Linked DNA regions of Homo sapiens: region 1 is linked to region 2. Evidence: fine-mapped expression QTL. A gene starts in region 2. The other region holds a variant in brackets. All regions are shown on one strand. Distances are from middle to middle. Region 1 has its middle 10 kb from the start of NOX1. Region 2 holds the start of XKRX (XK related X-linked).

Evidence for each region. PIP is the estimated chance that this variant, and not a neighbour inherited with it, causes the effect. A credible set is the group of variants that fine-mapping cannot tell apart.
Region 1: its variant is the best candidate, but not a certain one, in a credible set for the expression of XKRX in lung (TOPMed, PIP 0.75).

The regions. Positions count from the first base shown.
Region 1 is chrX:100,879,922-100,889,777 of GRCh38, reverse strand. It overlaps a transcript of XKRX not described here and the pseudogene HNRNPA1P27. Among named protein-coding and RNA genes, the nearest start is that of NOX1, 10 kb to the right of the region's middle. The variant C/A (reference allele first, on the strand shown) is at 5,799.
Region 2 is chrX:100,924,323-100,934,178 of GRCh38, reverse strand. XKRX (XK related X-linked) reads left to right here and starts at 5,262. Exons shown (of 3, transcript NM_212559.3): 1 at 5,262-6,209. The coding sequence starts at 5,875. RefSeq lists enhancers at 4,616-4,665, 5,859-7,058.

The sequences.
Region 1 (9,856 bases), 44 kb after region 2:
CTCACGTCAGCCTCTCACATTGCCGGGATTATAGGTGTGAGCCACCACATCTGCCTGGGTTTGTTCCTTTTGGGGGCTGTGAGGAAGAATCTGTTCCATGCCTGTCTCCTATCTTCTGGTGGTTTGCTGGCTATCTTTGGCATTCCTTGGCTTATAGAAGCATCACCCTGATCTCTACCTTCATCTTTATATGGTGTTCTCCCCATGTGCATGTTTGCATTCAAACATTCCCCCTGTTTTTAGCCAGGCACAGTGCCTCACATCTGTAATCATGGCTACTCGCAAGGCTGACGCAGGAAGATTGCTTGAGGCTAGGAGTTCGAGACCAGTCTGGATGATCTAGGAAGACCCTGTCTCTGAAAAAATTTAAAAAAATAAATAAATAAATAAGTAAAAAAAACTTGCCCCCTTTTTATAAGGACACAGTCATATTGGATTAGGAGCCTACCCTACTCCAGTATGACCTCATCTTAACTAATTACATCTATAAGGTACCTATTTTCTTTTTTCTTTTTCTTTTTCTTTTTTTTTTTTTTTTGAGATAGAGTCTTGCTCTGTCACCCAGGCTGTAGTGCAGTGGTGCGATCTCAGCTCACTGCAGCCTCCACCTCCCGGGTTCAAGCAATTCCTGTGTCTCAGCCTTCCTAGTAGCTGGGACTACAGGCACGCACCACCATGCCCGGCTAATTTTTGTATTTTTAGTAGAGATGGGGTTTCACCATGTTGGCCATGACTGGTCTCGAACTCCTGACCTCACTTGATCAGCCCACCTCAACCTCCCATAGTGCTAGGATCACAGGCATGAGCCACTGCACCCAGCCAGTTCCCTATTTTCAAATAAGGTCATATTCTAGGGCACTAGAGGTTATGTCTTCAACATATGAATTTTTGGGGAGACACAATTCAACATATAACTCTTGCCTTCTTGCTGTTCCTCTAGCACACTAAGCTGATTTTCATTTCAGGTCCTTTGTACATGGCAAGTCTTTCTGTCTAGAACCCTAAAGAAGCCTGGCTGTTCCCGTCTCAGCATACACATGTTATCTCATATGCCACCTTCTCAAAAAGGACTTCCCTGATCACTCTATTTAAAATAGCCTCTCCAGATACGTTTGTCAGCTTGCTCCTTTCTGCCTGTGGATGCCAACAAAGAAGCATCATTAAAGTCTCTCTTCTCCCTTCCGTCGTGTCTAAGTCAGAGTCTCCTAAAGAGCCCGAATAGCTGAGGAAGCTCTTCATTGGAGAGTTGAGGTTTGAAACAACCGACGAGAGCCTGAGGAGCCATTTTGAGCGATGGGGAATGCTCACAGACTGTGCGGTAATGAGAGATCCAAACACCAAGCGCTCCAGGGGCTTTGGGTTTGTTACATACGCCACTGTGGAGGAGGTGGATGCAGCCACGAATGCAAGGCCACACAAGGTGGATGGAAAAGTTGTGGAACCAAGGAGAACTGTCTCAAGAGAAGATTATCAAAGATCAGGTGCCCACTTAACTGTGAAAAAGATATTTGTTGGTGGCATTAAAGAAAACACTGAAAAACATCAGCTAAGAGATTATTTTGAACAGCATGGAAAAATGGAAGTGATTGAAATCATGACTGAGGCAGTGGCAAGAAAAGGGGCTTTGCCTTTGTAACCTTTGACGACCATGACTCCATGGATAAGATTGTCATTCCGAAATACCATACTGTGAATGGCCACAACTGTGAAGTTAGGAAAGCCCTGTCAAAGCAAGAGATGGCTAGTGCTTCTTCCAGCCAAAGAGGTCAAAGTGGTTCTGGAAACTTTGGTGGTGGTTGTGGAGGTGGTTTCTGTGGGAATGACAACTTTGGTCATGGAGGAAACGTCAGTGGTCGTGGTGGCTTTGGTGGCAGCCATGGTGGTGGTGGATATGGTGGCAGTGGGGATGGCTATAATGGATTTGGTAATGATGGAAGCAATTTGGAGGTGGTGGAAGCTACAATGATTTTGGCAATTACAACAGTCAGTCTTCAAATTTTGGACCCGTGAAGGGAGGAAACTTTGGGGCAGAAGCTCTGGCCCCTATGGTGGCGGAGGCCAATACTTTGCCAAACCACCAAACCACAGTGGCTATGGTGGTTCCAGTAGCAGCAGTAGCTATGGCAGTGGCAGAAGATGTTAATTAGGAAACAGAGCTTAGCAGGAGAGGAGAGCCAGAGAAGTGACAGGGAAGCTGCAGTTTACAACAGATTCGTGAACTCAGCCAAGCACAGTGGTGACAGGGCCTAGCTGCTACAAAGAAGACATATTTTAGACAAATATTCATGTGTATGGGCAAAAAACTTGAGGACTGTATTTGTGACTAATTGTATAACAGGTTATTTTAGTTTCTGTTCTGTGGAAAGTGTAAAGCATTTCAACAAAGGGTTTTAATGTAGATTTTTTTCCTTGCACCCATGTTGTTGATTGCTAAATGTAATAGTCTGATCGTGACGCTGAATAAATGTCTTTTTTTTTTTAATGTGCTGTGTAAAGTTAGTCTACTCTGAAGCCATCTTGGTAAATTTCCCCAGCAGTGTGAAGTTGGAATTCCTTCAGGGTGATGCCAGGTTCTATTTGGAATTTACATACAACCTGCTTGGGTGGAGAAGCCATTGTCTTCAGAAACCTTGGTGTAATTGAATTGATAGTTACTGTTGTGACCTGAAGTTCACCATTAAAAGGGACTACCCAAGCAAAATCATGGAATTATTGGTTATAAAAATGATTGTTGGCACATCCTATGCAATATATCTAAATTGAATAATGGTACCAGATAAAATTATAGATGGGAATGAAGCTTGTGTATCATCCATTATCATGTGTAATCAATAAACAATTTAATTCTCTTGAATGAAATGACAACTCTATGGATTTGGGAATGGCAGAGATTTGGACTTTCCTTACCCACTACCCCTGATTATGTTGAATGCTTCTATCACAATTCAAGTTCAAAGCTCTGCCAGGAATAGAAACTAGCTGCTGGCTAATGCTGCTCCATAAACCCACAGATTTGAAGTGTTTGGGCGGCCTTTTAAAAATGACCATATCAGAAAGCATTTTAATGAGCATAAAGATAGGCTTCCATTAAAGGAGAAAAATAAAATAGCCTCTCTACCTCACACACATCATTCCCTACTCCCTTTCCTGTTTCAGTTTTCTTCATAGCACTCATTACTACCTGAAATACTTTTATTTTCAGTTGTTTTTATCTGTCCCTCCCACCAGAATATAAGTTCCTTGAGGACAAGAAACTTGTTTGTCTTACTTACTTCTGTATCATTAGCTCCTAACATAATGCCTGTTCAAAATTAAATATTTAATAAATGTTGAATGAACATTGAATGAACACTCACTTTGTTCTCCAATTGAGTCTCTAAAAAATCCAGTAGAATCAAGTTTCCACTGAGAAAATACAGCTTATTTCAAACTCCTAAAGACATTCATTTTCCCCCTTTGAAATAAACTACACCTATCTAAGAGACCAATTATAAAACAATAAAATACTCCTCTCTCCCACAGTTGCCTTTTTTCTCTCTTCTTGTACTACCAGGAAACTACTTAATGGTAGCAAAAATCAGAGTGAAGAGAGGTTAGTTCCAAGACAGAAACACATTGTCAATCTTTACTCAAAGATTGTCCATCACCTGCTCTCTCTCCAGCCTAGCTAGCTCTTTTCAGGCCCGATAGGCACACATTAATGGGCCTGGCTGGACCACCTATGAGACAGAAAAGGGTGATCCCTTCCATTAGATTAACAGGCTCAGAAAAGACTAGGGAACTAAGCTGACTCCTTTTTTTTTTTTTTTTTTTTTTTTGAGGCGGAGTCTGGCTCTGTCACCCAGGCCTAAGTGCAGTGGTGCGATCTCAGCTCATTGCAACTTCCACCTCCCAGGTTCAAGCAATTCTCGAGCCTCAGCCTCCCGAGTAGCTGGGACTACAGGGACTACAGGTATTAACCACGTCTGGCTAATTTTTGTATTTTTAGTAGAGACAGGGTTTCACCATGTTAGCCAGGCTGATCATGAACTCCTGACCTCAGGTCAGCCACCCGCCTTGACCTCCCCAAAGTGCTGGAATTATAGGCGTGAGCCACTGCACACAGCCTAAGCTGATTTCCTCTTCTTCTTTTTTTTTTTTTTTTGAGACGGAGTCTTGTTCTGTCACGCAGGCTGGAGTGCAATGGCATAATCTCGGCTTACTGCAACCTCCACCCCCTGGGTTCAAGCGATTCTCCTGCCTCAGCCTCCTGAGTAGCTGAGATCACAGGCGTGCCACCACCATGCCCAGCTAATTTTTATATTTTTAGTAGAGGCGGGGTTTCACCATGTTGGCCAGGCAGGTCTTGAACTCCTGACCTCGTGATCCGCCCACCTCGGCCTCCCAAAGTGCTGGGATTACAGGTGTGAGCCACCCCACCCAGCCCTAAACTGACTTCTAGCTGAGATTTCTGAATGTAAGAGCTTTAAGTCAGAGCAATGGCTGTTTTGTTCCTCAGAGGTTTTTCAAAAGAGAATTGTCCACTTCGAGTTCTGACCTGCCTGAAAATTGAGTGGTGAACCTAATGACCTCCTGCCTGCTGCCTCCCAGCTCTTATATGACTTATGACAATTACTAAGACAAATTGATATCTAAACAAAGTCTCTTGGGGATTTTTTGATTATTGTTTGCTTTCATATCTTCTGAATGATCAAAAGAGGACTCTAACAGGAACCTTTGATGTTTATCCAAGTAAATTCAGGTTTTTCCTGCAATAACGAAAGTAAGCTTGTTTGTGGTTTGTGAAGATTTAAGCAAAGGAGGAGAGAAAAGTTGATTTTTAAAAACTGTTTCTTAAAAGACAAATCTTTAAATGAACACAAGAAAGAATTTAATTTAACAATTTTCTGAGATCAGGTTCCAACTTTTTTCTATTTAATCTTTTTCCAAACCTGCTTAAGTCAGTAGTTTTTAAGCCCTTGTGAGTTGCAGACACCTTAGGACAAAGCATCTCAAATTTAATATGGGTATGAACCACCTGGTGGTCCTACTAAAATGAAAATTCTGATTCAGTAGGTCAGGGGAGGGCATTGTTGGATGGATCAAATGCATCTCCAAGCTTCCCCACTTGGGCACCCACTTTGGCTTCAGCCCACCTCCAAATGCCCAATGCACTCCTGTTTTTCAAAGTCCACTGCTGCAGTATCCCATTCTAACTATTAATTCTTGTCAGATGCCCCTGCTACAAATCTTTCTGTTTTTACCTCACCTTCAAGTTTACCTCTCTTAGGTGTGTTTCTCTCTGGACCCTACTCTCAGTGAAAATATAATGAGCAACAGGTGATCGTGGGTTGATGAGTTATTTCTCTTTCTCCCTTGGACAGAAGACCAAGTCCACTCATCCCTCCACCACCACAAGGTAACAATGGAATTTAACTATAGCTTTCAGGAACAAAGCTTTTCTCAAAGGAAAAATTCCAAATGGTAAAATTTTTCTGCCTTATAACACACTAATGGAAAGGCTATTTTTTAGTGGTTTGGAGAGGAGGAATAGAATTTCTAATTTCTCAGAAAAAAAAATCCATACAACCTACTTAGATAACTGCCAATCTGACCTGCTTACACTCTGCTCTGCCTCTCATCTGCTCTGGTCCCATTAAAAGCAACATTGTCTTATTTTAGAAATGGAACCATGAAACTGTTAAACGACCAGTTATTTCATGGTTATGTCCAAAGTGGTTGAAATTCCAAAGTAAGGGAAGCAACCAATTTATCTTTTTATTTTCTTTTTTCTTTTTTTTTTTTTTTTACTGAGAGAC[C/A]TTGATGACCCATGGTTAAGAGCTTCAAAGCAGCGTCCAAAGTCTTAACCATGAAAATATTTTTCTTAACTGCAAAGAGGGCTCAGTCTTCACAATTCAAATTGTCTCATCTTGTACTCTCCGGAAGGGAGGGCAAATATTTGCATTCTGTTCTGGGAGAGGTCCCTTCCGCTAAGAATGTGTTAAGTGCTCCTAATACAACAAAGGAAAAGGATTTTTTTTTAAAGCAGTTGCATTTCCTTATTTAAAAGGCCAATCATTTACACACTGCTTTACTTGCAACCGAAATAGTTCCAATGCATTTATCCACAGCACATTATGCTGATGGTAGGGACTGTACATTGTCAACCTTTAGCTCTGAAAACTTGTGACTTTATCTTCTTCTTCTTTTTTTTTTTTCTCGAGACGGAGTCTCGCTTTGTCACCCAGGCTGGAGTGCAGTGGCGTGATCTCAGCTCACTGCAACCTCCGCCTCCAGGGCTCAAGCAATTCTCCTGCCTCAGTCTCCCAGGTAGTTAGCTGGGATTACAGGTGCCCGCCACCATGCCTGGCTAATTTTTTGTGTTTTTAGTAGAGATGGGGTTTCACCACGTTGGCCAGGCTGGTCTCAAACTCCTGAGCTCAAGTGACTCGCCCGCCTCGGCCTCCCAAAATGCTGGGATTACAGGTGTGAGCCACTGCACCCGGCTTATCTTCTTTCCCAGGCAGAGTAGTCAGTTCAGAGCCAGTAAATATGGTTGCAGGAAAGTCTTTTCTTTACCATCTGTATTACTTTCCTATTGCTGCTATAACAAATTACTATAAACTTGGTGGCTTAAAGCAACACACACTTATTATCTTATGGTTCTGGTTGTCATAATTCTGCATTGGGTCTCACTGGGTTAAAATCAAGGTGCTGACAGGGCTGCATTCCTTTCTGGAGGCTCTGGGGGAGAAGTTCCAGCCCACATTCCTTGGCTCCTGGCTTCCTTTCTCTATCTTCAAAGTCAGTAAGAGTGGGTCATGTTCTCATATCTCATCACTCTGACTTCTGTGTCCCTCTTCCATTTTTAAGGATCCTTGTGATTACATTAGGCCACCCATAGAATCCATAATAATCTCCCTGCTTTGGGGTCAGCTGATTAGCAACCTTAATTCCACCTTCATTCCCCTTTGCCATGCAAGGTAACGTATTCACAGGCTTAGGATGTGGACATCTTTAGGGGGCTATTATTCTGCCTACCACACCATCACATGACAAATGTTTATTGAACATCTACTGTGCATAGAGAGCTTTGTGCTCTGCCTTAAGGAGCAATCTGGATAAGATAGGACTTGCTCAGAAAAGGGTAAATAACAATGGGAGGTTTCACAGGCTATGAGAGAGGTAAGAAGATGAGGAACTCATGCTATGTCATGCTATAAAAATTGGAAGACAGTGTGGTATGATGACTGAGGTGGTCAGAGAAGACTTCCTGGAAGAGGCAGAGCTTAATCGGTCTTCAAGAAAAGGCAAGAGTTGAATATTGTTTCTGAGCTGAATAAGTCTCACATATACACTTTTGAGGGCAGATTTCCAAAGTAGCAGATGTAACATGAAAGTACTCATTGCTATTCTAGTGATGTCTCCATGATACTTACTGGCCTAAAAATCACTGTTATACATACCAGCTCATTTGATGCTCACCACAGCCCTGTGATGGAAGTAGGGAGAACAGGGAACTACATAAACCTTTCCATCATTGAGTCCCCAGGCCCCTTTCCAGGCCTAGGGCCACCCCCAGTGTTCTTTCTTCCTTATGGCCATGGGGATACCACCTGTTTTCTTCTTTGGTAATTACTCCCCAAGCCTAGCTGCAGAATGAGACACAAACTCTGCACCTTCCCAGTTTCTTGCTACTATTGAAGCCAAGCACACAGGCTCATTTAAAATTTGCTAAACTCTGGAGAAAACAGGGTAAAACCGACGGACATAAGGTAGTGACAAAAGTTTCATAATCTTACAAAGTTTGTATAATAATGGTCTCTGATCTATAGTTTCTGCTCCCCTTTTCAATAGCAAAAGAAAGTACCATTGAGTTTAGGTCCTCTGCTTATATTTTCTTAGGGCTCATCATCATCATCATTATTATAGCAAGCAACTATGGAGTGCTTTTTATATGTCAGGCAGTGTTCTCATTGCTTTCCATACTTTAACTCATTTAATTCTTATAACAACCCATTTTATGGATAATGAGGCAGGCTTCAAACCTAGGTAGACTGGCTCTGGAATCTATATCTAACCAGTACACCATACTGCTCTACCATCTCTTCCGTACCACCACTTTGCCTTCTGCCTATCAATATAGGCTACAATTTGAACACTTTCTCCATGAGGGATCAGTACGCTAGGTTACAGATGAAGAAACTGAGGCTGAGCAAAGTTAGACTTTTCCAAGGGAGCATTAATAGTGAGTGGGGAGCTGGAGGTCAAATCCAGCTCCATCATACCATATTGCCTTTACAAGGTGCTACTTTGGTGAGGTCTGGTTCTGCTCCAACATAGTAAAAAGAATTGATTTCAAATAATTCCACATGTATCAGTCCCTCTTATCATTATGGGATGTTTCATTTTTGGACGCTGTAATCAAGACCAAATTAATACCTTTAAAGGCTCTAAGATTTAAAAGAAACAAATGGGCCAGGCGCGGTGGCTTACGCCTGTAATCCCAGCACTTTGGGAGGCCGAGGCGGGTGGATCACGAGGTCAGGAGATCGACACCACAGTGAAACCCCGTCTCCACTAAAAATGCAAAAAAAATTAGCCGGGCGCGGTGGCGGGCGCCTGTAGTCCCAGCTACTGGGGAGGCTGAGGCAGCAGAATGGCGTGAACCCGGGAAGCGGAGCTTGCAGTGAGCCGAGATCGCGCCACTGCACTCCAGCCTGGGCAACAGAGCAAGACTCCGTCTTAAAAAAAATAAAATTAAAATAAGTAAATAAATAAATAAATAAACGAATGTCCTCCCAACACCATCCTCTATGGATTCAAATTAAACGTAATTATAAACAATAAAATAAGTAAAACAAACTATCATTTTCCCCATGACTACTTAAATTTTTGTTTTTGAAAACCAACCATCAAATTCTTTTATAAATTCTTAAAATAATTCTCAAAACAATTTTTTCTGATGTCCTAAGCACATGTTTAAACTGTTAAGTAATTCAACACTCTCTGTTATATATTAATTCCTGGAAGAGGTGTACAAGAGTTGTAACTGTAAAGGCAAATTTGGGACAAATGAGGACAGACACAAGTGATCAGGGAGAAGACACAACATGCAGGTCAGGTAAGGGCTTTGTGTTTACAGTTTGCAAGAATCCACCTACCATGGGTGGGATCAACCGTCTACAGGAAATCTTTCCAAAAGACTGCAGTCTATGGTAAAACTGTGAATAAGTTACTGATGACATTTAAGTACTCCCTAGAGATCTCCAGGAAGCAACCTCAAATTTAGTCAATGCCGCATAATCCATAAACCTGGGAAATGCAAACATTAAGACAGGTGAAGCAATACAGGGTGGAGGGGACTATTATAATGTCTAGAGCCAACAGAAGGAAAGCAATTCTGGGAGAATTTACAAAAAAGGGAGGTTGATGGTGAGAAGTTTTGTTTATTTATTTTAACTTATTTTTATTTTACTTTAAGTTCTGGGATACATGTGCTGAACGTGCAGGTTTGTTACATAGGTATACATGTGCCATGGTGGTTTGCTGCACCTATCAACCCATAATCTAGTTTTTAAGCCCTGCATGCATTAGGTATTTGTCCTCATGCTCTCCCTCCCCTTGCCTGCCACCCCCCAACAGGCCCCAGTGTGTGATGTTCCCCTCCCTGTGCCCATGTGTTCTCATTGTTCAACTCCCACTTATGAGTGAGAACATGCAGTGTTTGGTTTTCTGTTCCTGTGTTAGTTTGCTGAGGATGATGGTTTCCAGCTTCATCCATGTCCCTGCAAAGGACATGAACTCATTCTTTTTTATGACTGCATACTATTCCATGGTATATATGTGCCACATTTTCTTTATCCAGTCTATTATT
Region 2 (9,856 bases):
ACCTTGAAAACATCATACTAAGTGAAAGAAACCAGATACAAAAGGTCATATATGATCATATATTGTATGATTCTATCCAGAATAGACAAATATATTGAGATGGAAAGTGGATTCATGGTTGCCTAGTGCTGCGAGGAGTGGGGAATGGGGAATGAGTGCTTAATGGGTATGGGTTTCTTGGGGTGATGAAATGTTCCGGCACTAAGTTGTGGTAATGACTGCATGACTTTGTACTAAAACTACTAAATTGTACACTTTAAATGGGTGAATTGTATGGCATATGAGTTATTTCCAAATAAAGAGTATTATTTAAAAAATTAAATAATATCATTATATTCCCCTCCCTGACCCTTCTCTTCCACCAGGCAATATAAATAGAGCTTGCCAGCTGCCTGGCAACACCCAACATCCCAAATGCCATGCTGCATTATGTGGCAGCACTTCTTTCCCTTCAAGACTAATTTAGATGTCATTTCTAACCAGATTTGTTGAAGAAAAATGCTAGGGGTGAGGGCTGCAGGGAAGTTACTTCTGTTTTAACTCCAGGCCCAAATCCCAGCTATGGATGATACTGATGAGGGAGTGGCTCAGAACTAACAGGCAAGGGTCTTTGTTCTCAGGGAGTTTATAGCAAAAAGAAAAATAAGACCTAGATGATACGACTGATTTTGCATTCTGTTTTTTTTTTTTTTTTTTTTTTAGACGGAATCTCACCATCACCTAGGTTGGAGTGCAATGGCACAATCTCGGTTCACTGCAACCTCTACCTCCTGGGTTCAAGCGATTCTTGTGCCTCAGCCTCCGGAGTTGCTAGGATTACAGATGTGTGCCACCACACCTGGCTAATTTTTGTATTTTTAGTAGAAATGGGGTTTCACCATGTTGCCCAGTCTGGTCTTGAACTGCTGACCTCAGGTGATCTACCCACCTCGGCCTCCTAAAGTGCTGGGATTAACAGGTGTGAACCACTGCGCCTGGCTTTTTTTCTTTTTCTTTTTCTTTTTTTTTTTTGAGACAGAGTTGCTCTGTTGCCCAGGTTGGAGTGCAGTGGCACAGTCACAACTCACTGCAGCTTCAACCTCCCGGGCTCAAGCGATCCTCCCCACTTCAGCCTCCAGAGTAGCTAGGACTACAGGTGTGTGTCACCATGCCCAGCTAATTTTGTTTTTACTTTTTTGTAGAGACAGGGTCTCACTTTGTTGCCCAGGTTGGTCTCAAACTCCTGGGCTCAAGCAATCCTCCCACCTCAGTCTCCCAAAGCGCTGGGATTACAGGTGTGAGCCACCATGCCTGGCCTCTAGATATCTTTTAAGCATTCTAACAGCCCAAACTGAGCATTCTTTAGAGGGAAGCCATCTTCCATTCTGGCTATTGATTCTCTGGGCCTTGCCCATCACCTCCCACCAATAAGTGTTCTGTGACTGGACTGTCAGCCACTTGCTGCACATCTCTGTCCTTCCTCTCCTCTTTCCTCATGGATGCCACGCACCTCTTACACATCCATTCCTTGGAGGCTTTTGGGCAGTCTTCAGGCTGCAGAGGCTTGGAAAGCTCAACCCCATCCCTGAGCCTTATAGAGGGATTCTGAATGCTGATAAAGATGCCAAGAGCTTTTAGACCACATGGCTTTTAGATGCGCTCTTTGTTCCTGTTGAGTCAGTGGTTGGAAATAGAGTGGTAAGGAGTCAGATCTTGTTCTTCCCCTTTCTTGCAGAATTCTAGTGCTTCTCAGGAGGAGAAATTTATGCTTGAACACTACCTGGCATTCAGGAGGCAGCCTAGGTGTCACCTCAGATGACTAGTCTGTGGGAGATCAGTGCTTTTAATGGGACAGGGGTTCCTAGAGCCTCAGCAGCCTTATGACTGCCAACATTTCCAGCATCTTTAGTCCCAAGAAGAGTAAAGAGCTGGAATCTTGAGATGGCCTGAGAGAGCAAAGAGTGTTTGGACAGAAACAGCAAATTCTCAGTTAGCTACTCCCAGCAGGGCAAAGGAACGGGGAAATAAGAGACCAGAGGATTTAGTGACCTAAAGCGCCAGAGAATCCTAGGGCTGAAAATAGAGAAGTTGGTGGGTGAGGGTGATCAGATGACAGGAACTTTACAGGTCTATACCAGTCATGGGGGAGTCCAACAAAAGTACAGTAATAAGGGCTCTGCCCTCAAGGAGCCCGTGATAATTTAGTTGGGGAATAAAAATTAATATACTTGAAATAATTTTGGTGCTACACTCTGGTATAAACAAAAGAATGCTATAGAAATCCTTGAGAAGGGACAGATCATGTGGTCTGGGAACCTCTGTGAGCTGATGGCTGAATGAGACAGTGCTCATTCAGCCAGAGGAGTTTATGCCCCAGCTACAGTGGCCACAGCTTTTAGAGATGAGTGTGTCTGAGTCTTGCATGGTTTCAAGGAGGAAGTATGGGGGAGGAAGCGTCATCATCATCACCATTTGTCAATCACCATTGTCATCAACAAGTGCCACAATAAACAGTCATTGAGCATCCTTCCCTCACTAACTTTACATTTTTGGGGGGAGGCAGGACAAACACAGAAATAGTTGAAGGACTAGTATGAGAGAGCATGTGCCAGTAGCATGAAGAGAGAAAAATGAGGGTTGGGGAGGTGACAGAAGGCTTCTTGGAGGTGGGAGCACTTCGGCTGACCCTTGAAAGAAAGTTATGGTTTGGACTAATGGAGAAAAGGGTGAAGGGGGTTGTAAATCGCATCAACAAGGCAGAGGTGGGAGTGAGCAACGCAAATAGGAGAAGTGAGAAAACTGGCTGGCCTTGTGGAAGGAGTAGTGTGGGCAATAAAATCTGAGAGGGAAGTAGTGTGATGATTATATAGAGCCTTGAATGACAGACAGAAGGAGTCATTTTGGAACAAAGTAGGAAGGCATTGTAAATTTTTGTATTTGGGGAGAGACAAGGCCATGGAGAAGAAGGAGGAAAGGCTAAAAGGTAAACGTTGGGATTCTACATTCTTCTTCTTAGCTTTACTCTCCCATGTTTTTTTTTTTTTTTATTTTTAATTTTTATTTTTTTGAGATGGAGTTTCACTCTTGTCACCCAGGCTGGAGTGCAATGGTGCTATCTTGGCTCACTGCAACTTCTGCCTCCTGGGTTCAAGGGGTTGTCCTGCCTCAGCCTCCCGAGTAGCTGGGATTACAGGTGCCCACCACCACGCCCAGCTAATTTTTGAATTTTTAGTAGAGACAGGATTTCACCATGTTGGTCAGGCTGGTCTCAAACTCCTGATCTCAGGCCATTCACCCACCTTGGCCTCCCGAAATGCTGGGATTACAGGCATGAGCTACCGCGCCCGGCTGACTCTCTCATGTTTAGGGGGACCAACTCACCCTATCCCAGTGAAATGGGATTAATTGGTCACCTTGCCTGAGATTCACCTTGTGAACAGTTACCTAGAGCAGCCCCAAGAGGTTCTGCACCATATACTGGTGGTGGAGAACCTTGTCCCAGTTGGAATGTCCCAACTAATAAGAAAAAGAACACTCTCTGAAGTTGTTCTCAATAGTGTTGACCTCCTTCATGAAATGGAAAGGAGAAAGGAGCAGCCTCCTAGCCCAGCTGCTAGCATAGGTGCAGACCAAGATGCGGAGTCTGCTTCAGAAGGTGACAACCTTTAGATGTTGAATCTGTCCCTGAATCAGCCCTGGGGAAAGGAGGCAGCAATCATGGAAACCTTAAAAAAACAAAAAACAACATAATGACAGGACAACCTGGAGGCCATTATTTTGGTGGCTGCTACTTGGCCACTCCTCACATAGATTTGTTTTACTGACTTCCTGCAGCAAAAGGAGATTGGCACAGGCTCTGCTACATAATCATCATTATTATTATTATTATTATTATTATTATTATTATTATTAAGACGTAATCTTGCTCTGTTGCCCAGGCTGGAGTGCAGTGGCGTGATCTCAGCTCACTGCAACCTCTGCCGTCCGGGTTCAAGTTTTTCTCCTGCCTCAGCCTCCTGAGTAGCTGGGATTACAGTCACGCACCACCACGACCAGCTGATTTTTGTATTTTTAGTAGAGATGGGGTTTCACCACGTTGGCCAGGCTGGTTTCGAACTCCTGACCTCAAGTGATCTGCCTGCCTCAGCCTCCCAAAGTGCTGGGATTACAGGCGTGAACCACTGTGCCTGGCCTTCATCTATATTATTACCAGGAGGCAGATGTGTTCTCTTTTTCTCTGAGGTTTAGAATTATGCAAATGAAGATATGAAAACAAAAGCTCAGTGAGGTGGGGAGGATTACACTTAAGAATACAGGTAATTTTCAAAGCTCTTTAAGACACCCCTCTCAGTTTTTACTAACAGCTCTCTCTTGGCTCTTTGCCAGTCTGTTTAGAATTTGGCACCTCTTCATAACCTTTCAACCAAAGACCTGTAAGTTCATTCTAAAGCTCCTATCCTGGCCTCATTTTGCAAGTGGAGAAATCAAGGCATAAAATATGAGCTTTCAGTGTCTGTGGGCTGACCTTGAGTCTTGACCTTTATCCTGTTCTATCTTCCCTCCGCCGAAAACTCTGACCCTATTCCTCCCAGGTTCCCCCTTCATGATATTATCTGGAGGGCAATAGGACCTAGGGAGGTTCCACCCTGCGGCGGAGGGAGACACACCTGCCTAACAGCGTGGGTAGAGTGAGTGTTGAAGCAAGTCACTTAACTAGTTAGGGAGGGCGGGGTAGAAGTGGGGGCCTGCTGCTCCTAGGGAGGAGTAAAGCTGTGGCTCCTGCCTGGGTCTGGAGGTGGTGGTCAGAAGTGCTTCTGAAGAGCGGCCCAAGCCCCTTTTTGTCCCGCCACTCCACAACGAGCATCCCTCGGCTGGCCGCCTGCCCGGGAACTCTCCGGCTGGTTTTGTTTGGCCGCAGCCGTCCCGCCCATCTCGCCCGCCCCCGCCGTCCCGGTGCCTTAGTTTTTGAAGCTGCCGACCTCTCGCAGCTGGAATCGCAGACCAGGCAGGACCCTGGCAGCAGACGGCGTCCAAGAGTTTGGCGACCTCCGTCCAGCCAGGTTGGCGCCCCGCACATCGTGCCTCTCACTAGCAAAGTTTCTCCGAGGAGAAGCAGCCCCTCCAGCCTTTTCTTCATCCTGTAGAGCGAGCGCGCTCTGCTTCTGTCCCTCAACACTGCATTCGGAGACAGGGTGGTGACAATACTCCACTCCCGGGCCAGGCGGTCTTGGGGGCGGGGCTTGGGGGAATCCGAGGAGCTATCCTGAGAACCCTGGACTCGGCAAAGGTCCTGAGAGCGCGCAGGTGAGCGGGCCAGCTGATAGCTACAGCCTAGCAATAGCTAGGATACCTAGGCACTGAACTGAATCCCCTCTTCTGCCCTCCTTCTTCTGCGCCCGCTCTTCTGCCCTGGCTCAGCTCTCCGCTGACTTGAGAGGACACACTGGTCAGGACTCTTTGTGAGGAGCTGCTGAGTGTCGGTGCCCCCGACAGATCGGCTACACCCTGCCTGAGGGGCTGCGAAAGGAGCCGCCACGGAAGCCGCTGTTCTCATGACTCTTCACGTCCCTGGAGTTGGACTCTGGATGGGGCGCTGGGATGCTTGCTTTTGTCTTGTTCAAGTTTCACAGCAAGTATGTTGACGATTGGAATCGGGGCCAATCAAGAGTCAAGTTCAAAGTGGTACTCCTGGGCTTTCCATCCCAGACTCCAAGTCGAATCTGAGTCTAGAAGAGAGCGGTTTCTTGCTCTAACTAGTGAATCTCTGTTCCCAAACTGGACTTGACAGAGCTCTCCTCACCTATACTTGGACTGTAGCGGCCATAGGGTTCTCTTGGGGATGGGTGGGAGGGTGCTATGAACACAAGACCACAACATTCAGAAAGAACCTCGACAATGGACAGAGTTTATGAAATTCCTGAGGAGCCAAATGTGGATCCGGTTTCATCTCTGGAGGAAGATGTCATCCGTGGAGCCAACCCCCGATTTACTTTTCCATTTAGCATCCTTTTCTCCACCTTTTTGTACTGTGGGGAGGCTGCATCTGCTTTGTACATGGTTAGAATCTATCGAAAGAATAGTGAAACTTACTGGATGACATACACCTTTTCTTTCTTTATGTTTTCATCCATTATGGTCCAGTTGACCCTCATTTTTGTCCACAGAGATCTAGCCAAAGATAAACCGCTATCATTATTTATGCATCTAATCCTCTTGGGACCTGTTATCAGGTGAGCAACTTTTAAATCTTTTCCTTACCCCCCTAACCCCACCCCAGACTTGGGCAGAGAAAGATGAAAGATTTACAAGATGGATACTATGGCTCTAATCAATTCTCTCATTTCCTCCCACTCTCGGCTTCCCTGTCTACCATTCAGAAAACTTACCTGAAATCTTAAATGCCACCATGATGAACATGTGGTATGTACTTGTGTTCCAAAACAATGAACGATGCTATTTGGCCTGTGTAAACTAGAATGGGAACAACAAGACGTGATCACCCTGTGCATGAAGGCCATAGCTGCAGAGTGTGTAATTTTATTTAAAAAATTTTTTTTTTCTGAGACAAGGTCTTGCTCTGCCTCCCAGGCTACAGTGCAGTGGTGCGATCATGGCTCACTGCAGCCTTGATCTCCTGGGATCAAGCGAACCTCCCACCTCAGCCTCCAAGTAGCTGGGACCAAAGGAATGTGTCACCATGCCTGGTTAATTAAAAAAAAATTTTTATAGGCCGGGTGTGGTGGCTCATGCCTGTAATCCCAGCACTTTGGGAGGCTGAGGCGGGTGGATCACCTGAGGTCAGGAGTTCAAGACCAGCTGGCCAACATGGTGAAACCCCTGTCTCTACTAAAAATCAGCTGGGTGTGGTGGCGCATATCTGTAATCCCAGCTACTCTGGTGGCTGAGGCAGGAGAATCACTTGAACCCGGAAGGTAGAGGTTGCAGTGAGCCAAGATCGGTGCCACTGCACTCCAGCCTGGGCGATAGAGTGAGACTCCATCTCAAAAAAAAAAAAATTTTTTTTGTAGAGACGGGATCTCGTTATGTAGACTGGGCTCAAGTGATCTTCCTGCCTCAGCCTCCCAAAGTGAGCCACCGCGCCTGGTCTGAGTGTGTAATTTTGACTCTACCTTTTGGATGCTTTGTAAATTGGATAAAAGTTTCTTTACCCTGAGCTGCTTGGGCTGGTGCTACTGCCATTTTCAAATTTTCCAGAGTAATGTGACATCTGGAAACTATTTTAAACCATCTGTGGTAATCTGTACCCCAACCCAATATAGTTCAGTTCTCTGTCGGTTTATCAGTTTCCTATTTATCTCTTTGTATATTTCTGCAATAAAGATACGAAGTTGGGAGGGGGCAAAGGAAGGCAGTTCATCTCTCTATGTGGATGCAGTAGCACAATTTAATAGTATCAAGTATTTCCATTCAGATTGCCTTGAAGTGGAAAGAATGCACTTAATCCTAGCGAGATAGGCACCTGTGTCAACAGTCTCATCTGGATGCTATGGGGTTTTCAAGGTAGAGAGATGTTGCAAAACTTATGAGTTCAGGAGTAAGGAATGGACCAAGTTTGTCTTGATTGCAAGAGAGGCAGACAACTGCAGTCAGCCGAGGAATATGGGTCAGAGTGTTGCAATGGGAAGATACCTCATCATTAGACAACTAAAAAGTCTGTGAAACTAATTAAGGATGGAACTCACTCCTTTATAAAATTTCATATCTGTACACATGTATAATTTTTATTTGTCACTTATACCTCAATAAGGCCAAAAAAATTTTTTATCAATAAATTTTTAAGTGGGGAGGAATCGATTAGGCTCTATCAGAGAGAATATGGGATATCAATGGAAACAGTGGCCTGAAATTTGGAGTCTAGTCTTCCCCCTGTCATTGACTGGTTGTGTGTTCTTGGTAAAATCTCTGAAGATGGCTTCACAGGAAGGCATATAGAGTTCCCTCATCTGTAAAGCAAATGGGTTAGTCTAAATCATGGGTCTCAAACTCAAACACTTGCAGGGACCAGGCAGGTATCATAAATGAATGAAGCAGGCCTAGTATAAGAAAAAACAGTAGCCTTGTGTGAGATGATAAATGAAAACAAAGTCTCAGAGAAATACTGAGGAGTAGTGAGTACCATGGTAATCTGAAATCTTCATGACCTGCCTGAAGGAGGTAGCCCCTCTAGAGCCCTGGCGCATTGTTTCCATGTTGGAATTCAGACCCAGTATTGCCAGATCCACTAACTTTTCGGGAGATGCTCCCAAGACAGGATTTTTATATGAAATGTCATGATTTTAAATTTTCACAGCTGACTAAAACAATAACAACAACAACACAGGATGGACCAAACCATATCTGTTGGTCAGATATAACTCAGCTGGCCTATATGCATCTTTGGACTGGGTGATGTAAAGGTCCTTTACGGTTCTAAATCTTTGAAGTTAAGCTGTAAAAGGAAGACCTCATCTTGACCTTGAAACCAAGAAATTTAAAGTTGTGACTACAGGAGCAAATAAACCATTCATCCCTCCTTTTTCAAATACAATATATTGAGTTAACCAATCGAAAACTCTCAAGATACAAATTTCAGAAAGTACCCAGCTGCACCCTCCCCTCTTTTTGACTTCCTTTGTTTGCTTTGTGAACCCTCTGTGTAGAGTGTTGAGTACTGTTTTTCATTTTTGTTGTTTAGCTTCCACTAGAAATGATTGGGAAGCATTTATAACCTCAGGCAGCTTAGCCCACAGCAGAGAAAAGATAAAAACTCATAAATTATACTCTGGATTCGCTTATTTTCAAGGCCAATTACTTGTTAGATAGGTAGGAACTTGATTAGTGTTATCAGGCACATGAAGGTGCTTGTAGAGTCTGGGTGCCTTACATGAAATGCAAGCATACTTCCGAAATGAAAATGTACTCTAATTTATTGAAGCTTATAAATGGACAAACACCCTTACTTAAACCAGAAAATAGCCCTGAGAATAGAAACAGAACATTTATGTAAATGTAAACGGAACATTTCATGCCACCACCTTCTCCAATACTGTTCTCCAATTTAGCAATAGTACTGATGGGTTGGGGTTAAAATCTAAAATTTTTCATTGAAAATGCACTTATGCAGAACAAGAATAGGAAAAAAGTGTTGCTTTTTCTTCTCTGTTCTTTCTTTGCATCTTTTTCTTTCCCAGGTCTTAGAGTTTGTCCCTAGAAGGTGACAATTTCAAACTACATGCTTCAGAGTGGTACACATGCATCAGTCTTAGGGTGATCTATGGAGACTGGCAGCCAGCATATGTTCCAAATTTTCCTATCAGGAACTAAAGGCTAGAGAGCATATCAACCTCTGGGCTTGTCTTTGGTCTACTTTTCTGTTAAATTTCATTGCTGTTATTATTATCCTCTCCTCCCATAATTGCTTACCCTGTATTATTTTCTTCCTTCTTATTCTTTCATTTACTCAGCAAATATTTCTCAAATACCTACTAAGTGATAAGAGCTGTAAACAAGATAAATACAACCCTTGACCTCAGTCTCTTGGGCAAGACGTGTTAATGTCCACTACAAATGTTCTTACTAGTCATAAGTAGTCCACAGTTTTTATTCATTAAAGGTGAGTGGCGAAGTGGTAACTCAGGTGTTCCAGAACAAGATGTTCTAGTTGCTTCTCTTCCACTTACCACATCAGAACTGCTAAAGACTTCTGATTTGTATGGGGGAGGTGGGAGGGGCAGAGCAGGAAATGTCATCTTACCCTTATTCCAAGGATGATAGGCTTTCATAAGGATGTTTTTCTCTTCGTAAAGAAAGAATCCAGTTTAAAAGGCTTTTGTCCACAAACAGGACAAGAGGCACAAAAAGTAACTATTACAGTGAT